6 linked regions of the Homo sapiens genome follow. The protein of the gene in region 2 purifies or fractionates together with the protein of the main gene of each other region. This does not show direct contact. Each region holds a gene or a part of one and is shown on either strand. Other genes may lie near its edges. The genes, in order: HIP1R, WNK3, BMP2K, STON2, PIK3C2A and REPS1.

Region 1 (3,500 bases), on a different chromosome or scaffold from region 2:
GAGGGTGTGGTATCATAAAGGCACTAGTAGGTAGATAGACCTAGGCTCTAGCCTGTGTCCCTGGCAAGTTGCTTAACTTGTAAATCTATGTCCTTGTCTGAAAAAAAAACCATACAGATCGTTCCAGCTATCGTATAGGGCTGTTGTAAGGTGTAAGAGAGAGACCGTGTGGCAGCTAGAACCTGTGACTACGTTAATGACTTAGTAAGGCGTTGCAGGTGGAATTAGAGTTTTTCATCAGCTGAGATGGTCCTTGAGATGGGGCGATTCTCCTGGGCTACCAGGTGGGCTCAGTGTAATCACAAAGGTCTTTAAATGTGGACAAGGGAGGCAGGAGAGGAGGTCGGACTGAGTCCATGTGAGAAAGACTCACTGCCTGCTGCTGGGGAGGAGCCACTAGCCAAGGAGTATGGGCATCCTCCACAGCCTGGAAAAGGCGAGGAAATGGATTCTTCCCTAGAGCCTCCAGGAGGAAACACAGCCTTTCTGACACTTTGCTTTTAGTCCTGTGAGACCTGTTTTAGACTTCCGACCTCCAGAACTGCGAGTTTGTGTGATTTGTTATGGCAGCCATAAGGAACTAATACATCCAGTATGTAAACATGAAAGAGCACCTAGGGCATAGAAGGGCCTCAGCAGATACTTGGCCCAACCGTCTTTCTCCCTTCCCTTCCTCGGCTGAAAAGTTTAACATCTAGAGAAGAAAGCATCTTTGAAGCATATCATGAAGAAGGACTCAGTTAGGAGTACTGGAAATGCTAATGGTGAGTCCTGCCTTTTCCTGATCTGTGAACCTTTCTGCTTCACTGGGCCTCAGTTTCCACTGCAGGCCCACAGGATGGAGATCAAGCCCAGAAGATTCCTCTCAGGTTAGGATGAGAGAAACCCTTTACTACACTGCAAGGCCTCTGGCCACTGCTGAGTGAGCCAAGTCTGGCGGGTGAGCATTAACTGTAGACATGAAACTACCCAGGTGTAAGGGGTTCCTGTGGGGCAGGGACTGTCTAGGGCAGCAATATGTGGAAACAGTTCATAGGTCCAATTTTCCAGGTTGGTGACATACATGCTTAGCATCCCCCGTGAAACCAAAATCCTGTCAAGATTAACATTTATTGACAACTGAGGGCTTCTCAGCCCCGGCACACAGTAGAGCAGTGTTGTCCAGGAGGAACCAGAGGCAAGCCACGTGTGTACTTTTAGATTGTCTAGTAACTACTAGAAAAGTCAACAGAAACAGGTGCGATTAACTGTAATAGCATATTTTATTTAACCCAGTATATCCAAAAGCTAGCCCTTTCAACATGTAATTGCCACAAAAATTATGAATAGGAGAATTTACATTCTTTTTCTCCTACTAAATCTTTGAAATAGGTATGCACTGGACACTCACAGCTGATCTCAGTCTGGACTCACCACCTTTCCAATACTCACAGCCCGCACCGGCCAGCGGCTACCGTGCCGGACAATGCAAGTGTTAGAATCACCTGGTGGCTTTTAGAAAAGGGCAACATTTACGTGTATAGGAGTGATTTGCCCGCAGCATGGCATGGGCGTTGAGCTCGTTGTTCCTGGGCATGCGCACTGCTGTCTCGCCCCGTGACATCCTCTGCTCGGTTCCACCCCATCAGCCCACATGGTGATGCCCTCGTGGTGATGCCCGGCAGGCCGCTGACTTCCCGACCCCTGGGCTGCATATTGCCTCCCTGGCAGAGCTATTCCAGAGGCTGTTCTTGGTCCAGGTTGGGGTGGGAAGGGGCCACCCATCCTTGACCTCCCCCTCCCTGTCTCTGATGTGTTTTGATGCCCATGACACATTCCTGAGCGCCGCTTGCTGTCTTACCATTTGGCCTGTTCCTGTAGCTTTGGGGTGTGCCCCAGGAAGGTCCGAGTCATCTTTGTACCCTCTAAGAGGTGGAGAGATGCCAACTGTGGCCACGTGTGGAATGGTAGGGCAGTCAAGAGCAAGCTCCAGGTTCAGCCCCTGGCTCTGTCCCTTCACCACTCTGCCTCAGTTTCCTTATCTACAAAATGGGGGCAATAATACTACACACCTCCTGGAGTGGTTGTGAAGAAATTTACAGGTGTTCATAGTGCCTGGTGTGTAGTGAATGCCGTGTAAGTGTTGGCTGTTATGTTGTGTTCAGAAGAGCAGGCTGGGCTGAAAGAGAGAAACAAGCTCCCTGTTGAGCTCTGCCCGGTGCCCTTAGATTAGCTGTAAGCGGAGGCCTTGTGTGCTGGGGCGGTTGGGGAGAAAAGTGGATCTGCACAGAGGTTGGGGGGACTCAGGCAGGTGGGGACAGCCCTTCCCTGGAAGAGTGAGCCCAGAGGTGCCACATTATGAAGGCTCTCCAGGGTTGGGAGGATATTCTGGGGGACGACAGCCTCAGGAGGTGCAGACAAAGCCAGCAGGAGCCTTGCCTGGCAGAACTGCTCACCCTCTGAATAGGGACAGGCGCAGACGAGGCCCCTTCTCTGACCTGATCCAGAAGCCAGCCTCCCAGCCAGCGCTGCACCGGTCATTCGCGAATGAAACCCAGCTGGCCACTGGATCCCAGCAGCTTAAAGTGGAAAGCCTCTGAGTGGAGTCCAGGCCTGCTTGGCCAAGGGACAGGGATACCCAGCCGGCTAACCTGAGACGCCTTGGCTGCTCTGTTGGCAATGCCCTTACCCGCCCCCTCCCCGCCCAACTTGGTAATCTGCGATGCTAACTTGAATATCACCTCCTCTGTGCAGCCACCCGCTGCCGTCCTCCTGCCCAAGCCTCTCTGTGCTGCCCAGTCCTCATGACATTATTTGCGCTGCTTCCACATCTGCCCTGACACGCTGTGGCTGGCCCAGCAGAGCGGGAGGAAGCAGACAGACATGGGGTGGGCGCATGTGTAGACCAGGCTCGCCTGAGAAGTGGGAGTGTGTCATCTCCTTGCCGAGTTCCCTGAGCAACTGCTCAGACCTGCACCAGCCACCTACCCTGGGGTCATCAGGCAGGGCCGCGTCGTAAGTGGCTGGATGAGTGGATGCTCAGGGGCCAGTGGTCTCCCTTCTTTGATGCTGTCTTCTTGGTGAGGTCTGAAAGGCTCATGGCCATCCATTCTAGGGAATGACTGAGGCCTGGAGAAAAGTTTATTTGGGGCGAGATTGTTTTTTCTCTGGCTAAAATAAACATGATCCTCAAACTGCAGTAGGTTCATCTGCTTGGAGGTGACTCAGGCTCCTGGCTTTTGGGACAGACGGGTTTGTGGAGTGATGTCACCAGGGCCCAGGGAATGAAACTGCACGACCTGGCTGCCTGTCACTTCCAGAGCCAGCCTGGCAGAGGGGTGACGCAGGAACAGTCCTCCTACTACTGGGTGTCACCCACAAAGCCTGGGGCGGAGGTGGCAGTGGGTCAGGCGGCAACATTGTAACCAGTGTCCTGGGGAACCTGGGCTCTCATGCTCCCCTCGGGAGCTTTCCTAAACGCTGAAATGACGGAGTGGCCAGGACCAAGCAGGCCTGGGTGA
Region 2 (3,500 bases):
AACCCCATCCTCTACTAAAAATACAAAAATTAGCCAGGCATGGTGGCTGGCGCCTGTAGTCCCAGCTACTCAGGAGGCTGAGGCAGGAGAATCGCTTGAACCCAGGAGGGGGAGGTTGCAGCAGTGAGCCAAGATCACACCACTGCACTCCAACCTGGGTGACAGAGAGAGACTCCATCTCAAAAAAAAAAAAAAAAGTGATTCTAATTTTATACACCAAAACGTTTCCTGCAGCAAGTTACCCTGCCTTCTGTGAAAGGTAAACCTAAGACAAACATGTGAAGTGAAGATCCCATAAGACTCTGGCTGATGGAGGGTCTCAGTTCATCCACATTTGGGGAGAATCAATCTAAATAATTTTTAAACATTTTTAAAGAAGAGTATCCAGCTGCAGATAGCAGCAGTTAAAAAAAAAAAAAAAAAAGGCGGGGGATGGGGAGCTTCTCAACAATTCATGGAAAGTGTCCTGGAAATGGTAATGCTCAAGCTGAGCTTATTAAAGCATTCTGAACAGTATTTTTAAAAAATCAAGTATCAAAGAGGATAGAATTTGAAGTGAAAAAACATTTCTGTGTGCAGTGTTCTATCTGCAAACTGCACATTTCTACAGAATGATGAGCTGTATCAAATACCACACTGGAACAAAAAATATATAGTCTAAAGTAAACTCAAATGAGGGAAAATATGACAGAACCCAAGAGGAAGAAACTTTAATATCTTGGGTGTCCTGAAAATAATTCTGAAAAAACCTCCCTTTTTATCACCATCTACTCTGATTCATTTAGGACCAGGAGGGATTGTGGCAGGATTCTGCACTGATGAAGTTGGAAATGCCTGCATATTCATCCCTGGCTGGAATGGTCCCCCAGATTGGGCGGGAATTACTACAGATTGTTGTGTTGTTCCTGAAATTCCTACCCACTGTACTGGATACCCCGCCCCCGCCACAGCATTATACTGACAAACGTGAGGCATTCCATATGATGATAATGGCCCAGGAAATGAAGGGAGTGAGAGTCCTTGTGGCAAGGAAGTTGGGACAGCTCCACGGATTTGGGACAGAGAAGAAATCCATGTTGATGTGTAGCCCATAGTAGACGGAGTATTCTAAGAAAAACAAAAATAAAAACAAAAGATCAGTTTATTTGGTATAGACTTTTATCAGTCTATATTCCTTCCTATTCTTTTTTTTTCTATTGCTGCTGCACAAATGAATATTCCTTCCTAGTCTTTTTGGCATACTATTCCTATTGTTACTATTAGGGACTACCATTTTTGGAGCACCTTTCTGTGTGCTAACCATAATTATGTACCTTAATTAATGCCATCTTCATAACTGCCCTGCCTTACATTTTTATAGTTATTTCCATGCATACATACATAGAAAGATATTTGACATGATGTTTATCTAAAGTTAATGAAAATTATTTCTGGGTGGTGGGATTTGAAGGTGATATTTTAAATTTTGTACTTTTCTGCACTGATTAAATTATATAATGAACATTATTAGTTTATAGATAACCTGATTTTTAAAAAAAGACAAATTGGAGAGGTTATACATTTTCTCCTGGATATTTCAAAGGCATCTCAGAAACAAATGCCTAGAAATCAAATGTGTGATCTTCCCCTACCAAAGCACACTGTCTGCTCACATTCCGCATCTCGGTGATTGGTACACTAGAATAGCATCCAGTTATGGGAGCCAGAAACCTAGCCTTAATACCTCCCCTTCACCATACATCCATTCCATCACCAAATCTTGTCCATTTAATCTCTTAAGCATTTTTTGGAATCTGTTCACTTCTGTTCAACTCAACTTCTCCCATTTTCCAGACCAGTTAAGAGTTACCATGACTAACTCTTAACTGGTCTGCCAACATCTACCCTTACCTCCAATAAATAATCCTTTTCTCTTGCTTGAGTCAGAGTCATTTTTTCAAAAAACAAGTCTGATCATGTCAACCCTAGGGCTTAAATGGCTATTTATCTTTCTTCAAATACAGACGGCTGGGCGCGGTGGCTCACGCCTGTAATCCCAGCACTTTGGGAGGCCAAGGCGGGTGGATCAGCTGAGGTCAGGAGTTCAAGACCAGCCTGGCCAACATGGTGAAACCCTGTCTCTACTAAAAACTCAAAAATTAGCCAGGTATGGTCGCGAGCGCCTGTAATCTCGGCTACTCAGGAGGCTGAGGCAGCAGAATTGTTGAACCTGGGAGGCATAGGCTGCAGTGAGCAGAGATCGCGCCATTGCACTCCAGCCTGGGCAACAAGAGTGAAACTCCGTCTCAAAAAAAATAAAAACAAACAAACTAACAAAAAATACAGATGAAGTTCCTTATCATTACCACTTTTAAGACTCCATCTACCTTAGATCCATTGTGCACTAACTCCTCTTTGCTCTCTTCACTTCAGCCAAACTGGCCTACTTTCAATCCCTTCACGCTCCTTTCCTCATACAGGGCTTTTGCGTATGCGATCCTTTCCGCATGGAATCATTTCCTCTTTTCACCTAGTTAACACCTACTCATCCTTCAGATCTCTGCTTAATCATCACTTTCTCAGTGAAGCTTTCCTTGACTTTCCTTTACTAGGTCAAATTTCCCGTATTATAGCCTATATCTTTCTTTTGTAGTTCTTATTACGGTTGCAATTTTATATTCGTATATGCAATTCTGTTATGTCTAACTAGCTGTCTTAGCAGAGCATAAATTCCATGAGGATAGGGATCATACTTGTTTTTACTCACCAAACCCATGTCTAACAGAGGGCTTGGTACATAACTGTTAAGCAAACAAGTATTTCTGAGTAAGGATACAGAGCAATACAATGTAAGAGCATTAGTGAGATGGGCTTGCCACACAAAAGATATAACCAACTGAACCTACAAATACAAAAATAGTTACTAGATATAGGGTACCTACTATGTAACACCTATAAAGGTACAGCTTTATAGGTGTTATCTCATTTAATCCTCACAGCAATCCTGTAAGGCAGGTATTCTGTTTGAAAGACATGAAAACTGAGGCACAGATAGATCAAATGACTTTTCTAAAGTCACACAACTAGTAAGTGACTGAGCTGACATTGGAACCCAAGTCTGTTAAATGACGTTCACTACTTTTATTCACACACCATTTTCTACTCACCCTTCCTCCAAACATCCTCCATTATACTCCAGTAAACAGCCCTCCAACTAGTCAACAAAAGCCTCCATTCACACAGTACTCAGAGGTTCTCTCACTGGCAGTACAAATGCATTTATGTCTTGAAATTTGCCTCTAAAGGCTTCCAATTTTTACAATGGTGATGCTATCTGTGTATAAATTGGTGCCACAAGTAAGATAAATACACAGAGCTCCCAAGGAGATATACTGCTCACTAGCTTGGGAAATCGAGGATTTTGAAAATTTTTATTCAATATTAACAATAAATGCATTATTTCTTTAACAAACTATATGACTATACATGTACACATATGACAATACATGTACACAAATGTA
Region 3 (3,500 bases), on a different chromosome or scaffold from region 2:
TGATTATTATGCACTGTATACCTGTATCAACATATCTCATGTACCCCATAAATGTATATACCTACTATGTACCCACACACAAATTTTAATGAGCATAATTTTTTAAAAAATGAGTAAGTTGGAAAGTGAAGAGGAGTACTAAAAATTTTGTTTGGAGACATTAAGCTTGACATATGTGTGAGACAACATTTAAGTGTACAGCAGTTAGGTATCTGTGATTTGAAACCAATGGTTAGTTTTTGGCTGAAGAAAATAGATTTGGGAGTTATCACCATGCAGTTGGTATGCAGAGAGAGCCACAAGACTAAAGGGCATACCTCGGAAGAAAACATAGAAGAAAAGAAGATCCAAAACTGAGCCCTCAGTATAAAACATTCAGAAGTCAGCAGAGGAAGATGAACATACAAAACAAACTACAAAGTAACAGCCAGAGAGGAGGAAGAAAACAGCTGAGTGCAATGTCACAGAAATGGAGAGAGAAGAATGTTTGAGGGAGGTAACAGACAACTGAGCTGGATGGTGCAAAGAGGTCCAGTAAACTAAGGACATAAAATGGCCACTGGATCTGGTCATCTTGTATAGTTTGTTGGCAATGTTGACATGAGTAGTGGTGCTAAAGAATGTGTGGGAGACAAGTATGTGAAGAATACCACCAGGTTATACTTAATTGCAAATATAATCTTCTGTCAGTTCCTTAAAACCAGCCAAGAGCTACATGCTGTATTTGTTATCCTTCCAGATTAAAAGCAAATCAAATGCAGATTCTCAAGTTTGACTTCTTCCCTACACAGCGTATTTATGATATTAAAAACAAAGTTAATTTTAGTGAATTTATTTTTATGAATTTTTATTCAAAAGCAAAATATGGGAAGAAGGGAAAAATGAAAATAAAATATGTACGGTTCCAGAAGATTTCCCATCATCCCTGACTGTGAAACGTTTAACGTATTACTCCTCGAGCTGCATACCCACCCACAGCCACAACATTCACACCTCACGCCTGCTCACGGACACCTCCAAGTAACATTCCAATGTTGCCCAAAGTGTATTCTGCAGAGGCTATTTCCCTAACAAGAACCAAGACAAACAGTTCTGTGGTCTCAAGCAAACAAGTCTATGAAATGGTGCACTCTGCATTCTGCCTCCACTCCTACTCACCTGGAGTATGCTCATTAAAGGTGCTAATGAGTCCTACACAAAAGAATCTAATTTTATGAACCCTAGGATTTCCCAAATTGTCTTCACTACCCTTTTATTTACATGTAATGCCTGTTAACCTTTAAAACCAACTATGCAAAAGTACTTTGGGGAAATGCTGCTATACAACTTATCTTGAAATTTTCCATTTCTAGTTGTGTTCCTGAAGGTCTTCTGGAACATTTAACGTAGGACAGATAATTCATCTTGGAGAGTGTCACTTGGAAGTGAATTTAAATTCGCCTTCTTTTTAAAATTATTACATTGTACTCCCTAGTCTTCTTAAAATTTACTGTTTTCATTATTCAACTGGCTACCATTACTTTTCAGAAGACATCTGTCACTTTATACTTCTCATTCTGTTGGCCCTTTGTCCATTTATCAAAGTTGTATTAATAGAAATACACATTTATAATTGTCAGTGTGGGTATAAATCTGTGGGTTTTTAACTTACTATTTTTAATGCATCTTTTCAGGTATCAACAGTCTATTATTTATTCTGATAGAAATATGATAAAATATTCCATATATAACTGTTCACTATTTAGCAATAGAATATTTAGGTTGTTTCTAGTTTTTCGGCATTTTAGATACAACCATGATTCATGCACTTTTTCCTTCAAGGAGTAAAAAGGAAACCCTCCTTTTTTAGTATCAATTTCACTTTATTTATATACTATGATTCCCTCCTCATGGGTAATTAACACAGCTACTAAAGCTAACCCAATAATAATCCTGACAAGGTCACCACTATTCCACTTTCTTTATACACAAAATGGGATAACACATTTTATATCATAGAGCTATTGTGAAGAAAGGACTTAGAACGGTGCCTGAACACATAATAAGCACTCTACCATCATCATGTCCTGGGAATGGCCAAATTCAATTATTTTATCCATCATACCCAATAAGCTTCTAGTAACTTTTCTGGGCCCAGTGGTTGCAGGTGAATATAAATGAGGGAGAAGTGTAGGGAGAAGCAAGTCTATGGCTAATTCAAGAGGAGCTGAGATCCACTTCAGAACTGACCAGAAGTAAGTAGACCAACAAATGTATATCCACACAGCATAAGGGTACATTTTAGATCCTGGAAATTCTATTTTTGATTTTTAGACAGCTATATTTGAGAACACAGTATAAGAAATGGAAACACACTTTCAAAAAGAGCAAGAAAAGACACAATCATCTATACCACCTTTGTGCTTTCAGGTTACATCTGCAAATAGTACGGGCAACTGGGGAAATTTTCTGTTGGTGTAGATAGACTGGTTTTACTTATTTTGCCCCCCTACATAAAACTAAAATAACAATCAAAAATATTTATCCAAATTCCTGTTTTCTCCCATATTCTTGCAACCCACACTGACATTGTTTAAATATTTCACTCTACACTTTTACTGCTGTTATAAACTTATAAAAAGTAAAGAGCAGTAATGAGGCTCTCTGAAAGCATACTAAGACAAACTATTAATCCTTTTATCTCTCCAGTACCTCCTGCTGAGGAAAAGTTAGGTTCCAGGCTGCAAGTTACCACAATCCAAGGTAAGTTTCTGCAGTAGCAGTGATCTACTTAATCATCTATTCATCATGAAACTACAGAAGAGCTGGGAAAGAAAGGTGAATTACACAAAAATAAAAAGTATTTCAGTATATTCTAAGGCTTTCAGTCCTATTCCATAGACATAAAAGACTGTCAGAATAAGTATTTTAAGTTATAAAGTTGGTTATAACTATACAATGCACAGCACTTTAGAATGTGACCTCTAGCTAAGAATGCCATAAACCTTCATACTCCATTTCTTTGCCTAAACATATTCCTATAATTTAAAAAAAAAAATTTCAGATCTTCCCACTATTTGTGTCTGGGGCCAGATTCCCACTAGTTGTTAGATTAAATAATACACATTTGATTTACTATGAAATTTAATCAGGATTATTTCACTGCTAAAGTTAATTTCCCAAAAGTATAAGCCTAAATATGTTGCTTTATAATTCAATATACCCTAAATCCTAATAATCCCCATATTTACTGAGATCTGTATTATTAACATAAAAATAGCTGTTCTTCAAGTAGGTGGGAGATGGGGGTATAATATTTAGAATAAGCACTAACAACATGTATTTACAGCATTAAAAACTGTGTAGATGGTGCACAGAATCATAACTCATTTACATTATTTTAGTATACTGTGAAATTTCATATATTCACCCACTGTTTTTATTTTTGGCTCTAAGTAATGTATTTCTTCTTTTTCTTTAACTAAATATGGTAGAATGATATTTTGATGGTTTCTAGTCAA
Region 4 (3,500 bases), on a different chromosome or scaffold from region 2:
AGGGAAATGTTTGAATTCAATTAATTTCTAGGGATTCTATTTTCTTTCTGACAGTCATTAAAAAATATCAAAAGACTTTGTTACAAAATTATCTTCCCTTTGGCAGTTTCATGTCCCATAATTGCATGTATTTTTAAAACTTATTCTCTGGGATGGTAGCAGGGCATAGGTAAAATTTCTGAAATTGAGATTTTGTTTTTCTATGAAATAATTTATTTAAAGAAATCTGAGAATTGTAAGAAATAAATTCTAAGAGTTTATCCTAAGGAAATAACAGGACAAGCATGCAACGATGTACACAGTGATGTTTATTACAGCAATGCTTCTATCACAGAAAAACATGAAAAAACCTGAATGCCCAACAATGGGAGACTAGTTACATCAGTGGTCATACCCTTAAAATGAAATTCCATGTAGCTGTCAAGATGATGCTCTTGATGCATGTTAATTCACACGGAAGTTGACTAGGACATATTGTTGAGTGAATAACAAGAAACACCTAAAATCTGCAGTCAAATTGCCTGCGTTTCAATTCCATACCTACGGCTTTTTAGATATGTGATTCTAGGCAAGTCTTAAATTTCCCTCTATCTCAGTTTTCCTATATATTAAATTAGGGAAATATTAAATCCTACCAGACAAATAATAAATGCTCAGTAGATGTAGGCTGTTCTTAGTACTACTGCTACTACTACTACTACTACTAGAATGATAATGTGTCATTATAGAAAGTACGTATGTATTAGAAAGCTTTGGAATATAATAATCTCGTAATATTTTGATGTGAAAACAAATCTCTCATGGGATAAGAGGTGATTTAAAAAATTCGAAATCTGTATTCTTTCTTTCAAAAACTGCAATGTTCCTTACAAAATAAAGCAACATAGCATTATAATAAAAGTTCAAAACATCTCTTTATTATTACTACTAATTAGCCTTAGAGAAAGGAAACAAAGTGCTTAGCTATAGTCTGTATTGAGAAAGCAGCAGTTAGATCTTTCCCAAGACAATTATGACTGGTGTGGCTGGGACTGGAAACAATGAGAGGGGGAAAAGCTGGCAAATTTCTCCAGTAAGAAATAGGCAAAAACCAAGTATCTTGATCACAAAGCTAATTCTTCTCCACAATTCAATTTACTAATTTATTAAAATAAAACCAAAACCCAAACTCCAGCATTATTTTAATTACTATCCCTTCCACTGGCTACCTCCAAATTGTTTTTATTATGAGTCGGGCTGCTGCCAAACAAAAGCCATGTGTAAGGATTAGGTTCTCAGTCTACACCACAGGGAAAATTTCCAGTACCTAAGAGGTTCCTAGTGTCTTTACTGATGCAAACTAAAGAGAAGTGGTGGATTCTTTTAATGTTAGGCCGCAATCTATTTCAAGCTCCTAAAAGATTAAATTAAATAAAGTGATTTCAGTAGTAGTCAAAGCCACTAAAACTGAATAAAAAGTAAGAACTATGGCAGGAAAATTGTCTACATTTTGAACATAGAGACTCTACTATCTTCTTTCCCTTATTTGTTAACCTAATTTGTAAAAAAACCATATTGACAAATGTTCACTGGAATTTATTAGGAGTGGCAAGAACAAATGTTCTAACATCACTGCAGGCTTCTAAACATGCAAGAGCAGTGACTGTTACATAACAGCATATAAAGGCATACCTCGTCTTTTTGTACTGCACTTTACAGATACTGCATTTTTTTTTTTTTTTTTTGAGATGGAGTCTCGCTGTGTTGCCCAAGCTGGAATGCAGTGGCGCTATCTCGGCTCACTGCAAGTTCCGCCTCCCGGGTTCAAGCCATTCTCCTGCCTCAGCCTCCTGAGTAGCTGGGACTACAGGTGCCTGCCACCACGCCCGGCTAATTTTTGTATTTTTAGTAGAGACGGGGTTTCACTGTGTTAGCCAGGATGGTCTCGATCTCCTGACCTCATGATCCGCCCGCCTCGGCCTCCCAGAGTGCTGGGATTACAGGCGTGAGCCACTGTACCCAGCAGATACTGCATTTTTTATGACTAGAAGATCTGTGGCAACCCAAAGTCTGTCAGCACCATCTTTACAACAGCACGTGCTCACTCTGTCTCTGGGTCACGTTTTGGTAATTCTCGCAACATTCAAACATTTTCACTATAATTATATCTGTTACAGTGATCTGTGATCTTTGATGATACTATTGTAACTGTTTTGGGGCACCATAAACTGTGCCCATATAAGATGGTAAACTTAATCAATAAAATGTGTGTGTTCTGGGCTGCTCCACAGTCTGGCCATTCCCCTATCTCTCTCTCTCTCTTCTTCAGGCCTCCTTATTCCCTGAGACAAAGCAATATTGAAATTAGGCCAATTAAGAATCCCACTATGGCCTCTAAGTATTCAGATGAAGAGTTATATGTCTCTTACTTTCAATCAAGAGTGAGAGATGAGTAAGCTTAGTGAACAAGGCATGTCAAAAGCGGAGACAGGCCAAAAGCTAGGCCTTCCATGCCAGTTAACCCAGTTGTGAATGCAAAGGAAAACTTCTCAAAGGAAATTAAAAGTGCCACTTCAGTGAACACATGAATGATAAGAAAGTAGTGACAACATTCTCTTAAGCCAGAGCCTAATTCAGAGGAAGGCCCTACCTCTCATCAATTCTATGAAAGTGGAAAGAGGTGAGGAAATTGCAGAAAAAATAAATAAATAAATAAAGCTAGCAGAGGTTGGTTCATGAGGTTTAAGGAAAGAAGCCATTTCCATAGCATAAAAGTAGAAGGTCAAACAGCAAGTGCTAATGTAGAAGCTGCAACAAGTTATCCAAAATATTTACCTAATATAATTGAGGAAGGTGGCTACACTAAGCAACAGATTTTCACTGAAGATAAAACAGCCTTTTACTGGAAGAAGATGCCATCTAGGATGTTAATAGCTAGAGAAAAGTCAATGCCTGGCTTCAAAACTTCAAAGGACAGGCTGACTCTCTTGCTAGTGGCCAATGTGGCTGGTGACTTTAAGTTGAAGCCATTGCTCATTAACCATTCAAAAAATCTTAGCACCCTTAAGAATTATGCAAATCTACCTTGCCTGTGCTCTGTCAATGGAAGAACAAAGCCCGGATGACAACGCATCTGTTTACAGCAGGAATTACTGAATATTGTAAGCCCAGGTTGAGACCTACCGCTCAGAAAAAAGAGGTTCCTTCCAAAAATATTACTACGCACTGACAATGCACCTGGCCACCCAAGAGCACTGATAGAGATGTACAAGGAGATTAATGTTGTTTTCATGCCTGCAGCCGTGGAACACAACATCCATTCTCTATCCCATGGATCAAGGAGTAATTGTGATTTTCAAGTCTTCTTATTTAAGAAATACATTTTGTAAGGCTGCCATAGATAGTAATTCCTCTGATGGATTGGGGCAAAGTAAACTGACAACCTCCTGGAAAGGATTCATCATTCTAGATGCCATTACAAACATCTGTGATTCATGAGAGAAGTTAACATTCACAGGAGT
Region 5 (3,500 bases), on a different chromosome or scaffold from region 2:
ACTGCACTACAGCCTGGTGAAAGAACGTGACTCCGTCTCAAAAAAAAAAAAAAAAAAGAAAAAAGAAAAAAAAAAAGAAAAGCTTTCCCTAAACCTACGTTTTATGTTCCCTTAGCTAAGTTTTCCCTTAAGTTGTTCTCTGTGCATTGAAATAACACTATCCTTAACACCTCATCATCTTCTTCTTCCTATAGTAAGGATTTACAATCTAAACTCTTTACTCAAAAATCTTGTCTAATTAACTCTTATCTATTTTCCATTTGACTATATTATCCCTTACATCTTTTCTTTCCCGTAACAAATTTTTTTAAATAACTGAAGTACTTTTTGCTACATGGATTGTAGTTAGTTGGTCTCTCCTAGTTGGAATATAAACTTCCCAAAGGCAGGAAGTAACTATTTCTTTATACACTCCAAAAATCTGGTTTGTACTATGTATCTAAACACTCAAATGCCATATGAAGAGATTCAATGAAAAGAATACTGGGGCCCGGGGCGGTGGCCCACACCTGTAATCCCAGCACTTTGGGAGGCAGAGGCGGGCAGATCGCCTTAGGTCAGGAGTTCAAGACCAGCCTGGCCAAAATGGTGAAACCCCATCTCTACCAAAAATACAAAAATTATCCGGGCATGGTGGCATGCACCTGTAATCCCAGCTACTCGGGAGGCTGAGGCAAGAGAATCACTTGAACCCAGGAGGCGGAGGTTGCAGTGAGCTGAGATTGCGCCATTGTACTCCAGCCTGGGCGACAAGAGTGAGACTTCATCTCCAGAAAAAAAAAAAAAAAAGAAAGAAGGAAGAAAAGAAAAGAATACTGGGGTGGACGTGGTGGCTTATGCCTGTAATCTCAGCGCTTTAGGAGGCCAAGGTGGGCCCAGGGGTTCAAGACCAGCCTGGACAATGTGGCAAAACCCCTCCTCTACAAAAAACACAAAAATTAGCCAGGCGTGATGGCACGTGCTTGTAGTCCCAGCTACTTGGGTGGCTAAGGTGGGAGAATCACCCAAGTGTGGGAGGCAGAGGTTGCAGTAGGCTGAGATGGAGCCACTGCACTCCAGCCTGAGCGACACAGAGAGAACCTCCCTCAAAAAAAAAAAAGAACAGAACACTGGGCCTAGCATTGTTAAGACCTGAATTCAAGCAATGCTTCTAATTTATTATGCTAAGTAAGTCACAACATCTTTGGGCCTCAGCAAAATCAGAATACTTGCTGTATTTACCTCACAGGTAATAAGGTCTTGGAGGGAAAACAGTGTTAGCTAAGCTATAACCATCAGTCAATCCAAGTGTAAAGATGTATTATTGTCAGTCATAGCTATCTTGTCTAAAATTAGCCACTAGTGTTTTTTAACCAAGCTCAGTGCACAGCAAATTAAGTGCACCAACATTGCACATCAGTCATATCAATAATGTAACTGTTATACTGTAATACTAACAGAAAGCCTTATGTTTAACAGTAAGCATGTTAATTATACACTATCTTAATGCAGTCTCAAGGTTAAAAGATAAATACTTGTTGCTAAGCCAACAATAACTGCCTTCAAATCTATTAAAAGAGGATTTATAAATCCCATTTGTTTTTGTACCCAAATAGCTAAGTTTAAAATTTTAAGAAATCCAAGAATTAGTTTAAAATTGTATAAATTCTCCTTTTAACTTTCTAAAATGTCCATATGCACTCTCATTGTGTTTTAAATCCATTACATTAGAAAAACAGACTGCAGGCCGAGTGCAGTGGCTCATGCCTGTAATCCCAGCAGTTTGGGAGGCCAAGATGGGAGGATCGCTTGAGGCCAGGAGTTCAAGACCAGCCTGGTCAACATAGTGAGACACCATCTCTATTAGAAAAAAAAAAGAAGAAAGAAAAAAAGAAATAACATACTGTAGAAAAAAAGGATACAAAGTATACATAAATGAACAAAATAAAGATAACAAAAATATGACTCCACTACAGATGCAGAGAAAACAAAGACATTTCTTCTCATCCCAACCATAATCCTATGAACAACCTGAAAGATACTTACAGCAATATTTGCAAGTATGACCATAATTCTCATCAAAAGAACATCATATATGAGTACCATCAAAATGATTACAAATTATAAATTACCAGTGATAATTTTCTCATTGGAGTCCCTTTTCCTTTTTCAAGCAGAGAACCAAGACAGAATAGCCTCTAGATCTTTTTTGTGGTGGTGGTTGTTTTTTGAGACAGTGTCTCACTCTGTTACCCAAGCTGGAGTGCAGTGGTGATCATAGCTCACTGCAGCCTCAAACTCCTAGGCTCAAGAGATCCTCCTGCTGGCAGGGTACAGTGGCTCACGCCTGTAATCCCAGCACTTTGGGAGGCCGAGGCGGGCAGATCACAAGGTCAGGAGATTGAGACCATCCTGGCTAACACCGTGAAACCCTGTCTCTACTAAAATAATATAAAAAATTAGCTGGGCGTGGTGGCGGGCGCCTGTAGTCCCAGCTACTCGGGAGGCTGAGGCAGGAGACTGGTGTGAACCTGGGAGGCGGAGCTTGCAGTGAGCGGAGATCACGCCACTGCACTCCAGCCTTGGCGACAGAGCGAGACTCCGTCTCAAAGAAAAAAAAAAAAAAGAGAGATCCTCCTGCCTCGATCCTCCAAAGCACTGGACTATGGGCATGCATTAATGCACCCAGCCTCTAGATCTATACTGTCCAATATGGCAGTTACTAGTTACATGGAGCTATTAAGTGCCTGAAATGTGGCTGTTCCAAATTGAGATGTACCAAGTGTAACATACACCAGATTTAAAAGATTTAGGGGAAAAAAATAATGTAAAATCTCCTACCTATGTGACTCCCATTTTTGGCTCACATATTTCTCATGTACAGCACTGCTTTATATATGTAGTCGAATCCTGAATAAGGAAAATGGATACCAGAAGTATTAAGCAGTTTGCTCAATATCTCACCGCTTGATAGAAGCAGAGCAGGGCCTAGAACCTGATCACGTTTATCCATCCTGCCCTTATGAATAGAAGGAATTAATCATTTAAGACTCAACTTGAGCATCCTCTTCCTCCTCAAACCCCCTCATTCCTTTTCCATCTCCCAGCCCAGGTGACCATATCCTATTTAGCCTGCCCTTATAATTATACTGTTATAAAATGTACGTTGTCTTCCAAATGGATGAGAAATTCTTGAGAGCAAGCACTGTCTCATTCATTTTTCTTATCCCTGGGAACCTTTGAAGTACCAGGCACTCTTTCAGGCCCTCCGGCACTCTCAGAGCTTTGAGAGGGTTAATTTTTAGCCCTATGCAGGTACAACTACTAAAATGAAATCACCTACAATGTGATGCACCACCAGAAACATCCACATTTATCATTTGCCTGTCTTAAATTATTTTTGGAATATGCTAAATTAATACAATGCATAGGCCAGGCGCAGTGGCTCACACCTGTAATCCCAGTACTTTGGGAGGGCGAGGCGGGCGGATCACTTGAGGTCAGGAGTTCAAGACCAGCTT
Region 6 (3,500 bases), on a different chromosome or scaffold from region 2:
GAAGAAGAGTCATAACTTACCCAGGTTTTTAATTTTTGAAGAACTGGCAGTATTGTTGTTACCTTGGTTAAAATAGAAAAGTTAGGGCAGAGGATGATGAAGTTATGTTTTAGTCACTGTGAGTTTAGAATGGTGAGGAAAAGTGAAGTGTTAAGTGAAAGGGAAAATTTGGAAGTTTTCATTTGATACCTAAACAGCAGTCAGAGATACACGAAGAAAATCAAGATTGTTTGCTATTATGGGAATAGGCAGGAGTATGCCAGGAGGGCTTCATGTAATAGAGGTAAGAAGCAAAGTGAGATCTGATGAAAGGCTGTGAGATTTGGTCTTTAGGTTACATACAGACCATGTAACAAGTTAGTACTTGCCTTCTAATACTTAACAAACATTCTTAGAAATCTTTATCATGTAGTCACATTCATTCAGCCTATTTCTTCTATTAACAAAGTGATTATACAGTTACTAAAAAGAAGAACTTTTGTATTCATGCAGGACAACAACAGGCTGGAGTTGTTGCCCATCCTCCTGCAGTGCCTCCAAGACCACAGCCCTCACAGGTAATTCTCCAAGGTATTTATTACTAAATGTCCCATGATCACTTTGCCTGCTAGGTATTTAATTCTATTCTCAAATTATTTGGAAGGTCAGGAATGATCTGTTGGTAATCTTTAATGAGCATTTAATTCAGTGAGGCTGAATCTCATTTTGAAAGATGCACATTTCAAGAATGATCTGAGTTATTTTTTGAAAGAGCCTTAAAAGTGAAACAAATGATAATGTCTTGACAGAGAAGAGTTTAGTGGAAACAACAATGGATTGGGAGATAGGAAATATCCATTAATGTCCTGGGTCTAGCAGTGACTCACAAAATCACTTCACCAGGCTGGGTGCAGTGGTTCACACCTGTAATTGCAGCACTTTGGGAGGCTAAGGCAGTAGGATTTCTCAAGCCCAGGAGTTCCAGACCAGCCTGGACAACATAGTGAGACCCCCATCTCTAAAAACAAAACAAAAAAATTAGCTGGGTGTGGTGGTGTGCACCTGTAGTCCCAGCTACTTGGGAGGCTGAGGTGGGAGGATCTCTTGAGCCTGGGAGATCAAGGCTGCAGTGAGCTGTAATTGCACCACTGCACTCCAGCCTGGATGACAGAGTGAGACCCTGTCTCAAAACAAAACAAAATACCCCTAAATAACCTCACTGCATCTCTCTGGATGTGTTTACCACATGAGTTAAGGAAGTATAATGACCTCTGCATCCCTTCCACATCAAAATTAGAGTGCTGTAGTAGACATTTATAAAATGCTTTGGGACAGCCTTAGTGGCTAAAGTTAAGGATCACATTATACATGAAATGAAGGAATGAGACTTAGCAGGGACTTGAAAGATAAAGTGGAATTTATTGGGGAAAAGGTATTCCAAACCGAAGGTATGACATCCACAAAGCGATGGAGGTTTGTGTTAAGCCTGGCACATTCCTCAGGGGAAAACAAGTTAGTTCAGCACAACAGGAGTAGATGTGTGGAGTGATGAGAAATGAAGCTGTCCATATCGTAGTAAGAAGGATAGACTTTTTCTTAGAGGAGATGAAGAATTTTTAAAGGGAAGAGACTTCAGATTTCTTTCTTTAGTATCCTTTACTTCCTTTGTCATAAAACATCTCACACTCTATTTTAATTTCTTATTTACTTATTCTCTTCTCCTGCTCCGGACTGTCAGCTTTATTAGAGTATAAGTGGGCCTCATTTGTTTTGTTCACAAGTACATATTCAGTAAACATATTTTTAGACTGAAGATGGAGCAGCATTGGTCTGGCTGGCAAAGGAGTGGAAGATGAATTGAAGGGAAGTGTTCCTGACATGTTGGGAGGATAGAGCAGTGGTTTTCACACTTTTTAGAGCAAGCTTTTTAAGAAACAGTGAAACATTAAAAAAAAATAACTTATTTAAGGAAGAAACTATTGTGCATTAGTCCAATTAAGAAAAAAACACATGCAAGTGGAGAATGGGGGTAGGGCCAGACCTACCCTCTCCTTCATTGTACTTTCTTTGCAATACAGTTTTTGAAAAAAAATATCTTTTTATTGGAGGTTTATCATCTTAATTTTTTTTTTAGTGTCTTAGCTTTTCACTTATGGTTTAATCATTTCTTTAGAGCTAAATGTTACTATAATACACCTCTCTGAACTTACAGATAATAAAACAGGTCATCTTTATATACTAAGTTTTCGAAGAAGAAGAAGATGACTCTGTGACACTGATAGGCTGATAGAATGTGTGTTCCTCTGTTCTGAACCATTGCACAGGCTCCTGGTCCTGCTGTGCATCGCCCAGTGGATGCCGATGGCCTCATAACTCACACTAGTACCTCACCTCAGCAGATACCAGAGCAACCAAATTTTGCAGATTTCAGTCAGTTTGAAGTATTTGCTGCATCAAATGTAAACGACGAACAAGATGATGAAGCCGAGAAACATCCAGAAGTCCTGCCGGTCAGTTTTCGAGGGCTTGGCTAATTTTCTGCAGGCAGTCACTTCCCATACCATGTTGTGTCAACAGAGCAGATATTAGAGGGGACATCAGTGAGTAAAATATTCCCTGGGTCAGTGCTTCTCATCTTTTTTATTGGCCTCCAATATCTGCTGGTTGCAGTGTAATGCTTACTAAGTATCAGAGTCTGGTGGGGGTGGGGGATTGATATCACATGCAAAGACACCACCGCCTGGCCGTGGCTAAAACGCTGCTTTGGGGGTTTCCATCTTAATGCTAAGCATCTGTCTGTGTGATTTGGTGAAGATTTCCCTGTCATAAGAGGCCATGGTTACCATAGCTCCACTCATTGCAACTTTTCCCCAAGGGGAATTTCACTATATGTAACTTTTAGATCTAATTACAACTTTAACTAAAAACAAATTTCAGCCAAACTTCTAATTAAAGCATTTAAAATTTGTATGAGAGTAAGTTGCCTTAGTTAAGCAAAGACTATAGGATACCAAAATTTAATATTCACAGTGTTCTAGGATATTCTATTGTAGTTCCAATGGCAAGAACCTCTCTAGGAATCTCTGACCTAAATTGCTGAGCATAAATGTGGAGTTGGAGAGACCAGAGGAATTCTGCAATCTCTTTCTTATAGGTCATAGCCATGGAAAATTTCCTACTAGCTCCCTTTTAAAACCTACAACTTTCTGCCGTGCCCATTAGGGGACTGGGCTGCATCTAGGAGGGTCAGAGTGGGCATGTAGAGGTGTGCACAGGGTACCGTACTCACTCCCCTGGGTGGATGCCTCCCTTCTCCCAACCACGAAGACTTCCCAGACTAACCACTTAGAGGTTCGGTGCAGTGGCTGCATCCTCACCCCGTCCTCCTCTCCCTCACACATTTATGACCTGCATCCTCGCCTGTCCTCCTCTCCCTCACACATCTATTACATAGCTGCATCCTCGTCCCCTCCTCCTCTCCCTCACACATCTACTACCTGCATCCTCACCCCATCCTCCTC

Evidence for each region.
Region 1: the proteins of WNK3 (region 2) and HIP1R purify together in Homo sapiens (affinity purification with mass spectrometry; one large-scale study listed by BioGRID and IntAct). This does not show direct contact.
Region 3: the proteins of WNK3 (region 2) and BMP2K purify together in Homo sapiens (affinity purification with mass spectrometry; one large-scale study listed by BioGRID and IntAct). This does not show direct contact.
Region 4: the proteins of WNK3 (region 2) and STON2 purify together in Homo sapiens (affinity purification with mass spectrometry; one large-scale study listed by BioGRID and IntAct). This does not show direct contact.
Region 5: the proteins of WNK3 (region 2) and PIK3C2A purify together in Homo sapiens (affinity purification with mass spectrometry; one large-scale study listed by BioGRID and IntAct). This does not show direct contact.
Region 6: the proteins of WNK3 (region 2) and REPS1 purify together in Homo sapiens (affinity purification with mass spectrometry; one large-scale study listed by BioGRID and IntAct). This does not show direct contact.

The regions. Positions count from the first base shown.
Region 1 is NC_000012.12:122,838,457-122,841,956, forward strand, and holds part of HIP1R (huntingtin-interacting protein 1-related protein), read left to right. Parts: intron 1-3,500. UniProt on the Homo sapiens protein: Component of clathrin-coated pits and vesicles, that may link the endocytic machinery to the actin cytoskeleton. Binds 3-phosphoinositides (via ENTH domain).
Region 2 is NC_000023.11:54,197,547-54,201,046, forward strand, and holds part of WNK3 (serine/threonine-protein kinase WNK3), read right to left. Parts: intron 1,108-3,500; coding exon 778-1,107; 3' UTR 1-777.
Region 3 is NC_000004.12:78,905,350-78,908,849, reverse strand, and holds part of BMP2K (BMP-2-inducible protein kinase), read right to left. Parts: intron 2,743-3,500; exon of another isoform or gene 2,689-2,742; intron 1-2,688. UniProt on the Homo sapiens protein: May be involved in osteoblast differentiation.
Region 4 is NC_000014.9:81,281,825-81,285,324, forward strand, and holds part of STON2 (stonin-2), read right to left. Parts: intron 1-3,500. UniProt on the Homo sapiens protein: Adapter protein involved in endocytic machinery. Involved in the synaptic vesicle recycling. May facilitate clathrin-coated vesicle uncoating.
Region 5 is NC_000011.10:17,201,487-17,204,986, forward strand, and holds part of PIK3C2A (phosphatidylinositol 4-phosphate 3-kinase C2 domain-containing subunit alpha), read right to left. Parts: intron 2,890-3,500; exon of another isoform or gene 2,821-2,889; intron 1-2,820.
Region 6 is NC_000006.12:138,911,754-138,915,253, reverse strand, and holds part of REPS1 (ralBP1-associated Eps domain-containing protein 1), read left to right. Parts: intron 1-492; coding exon 493-557; intron 558-2,303; coding exon 2,304-2,489; intron 2,490-3,500. UniProt on the Homo sapiens protein: May coordinate the cellular actions of activated EGF receptors and Ral-GTPases.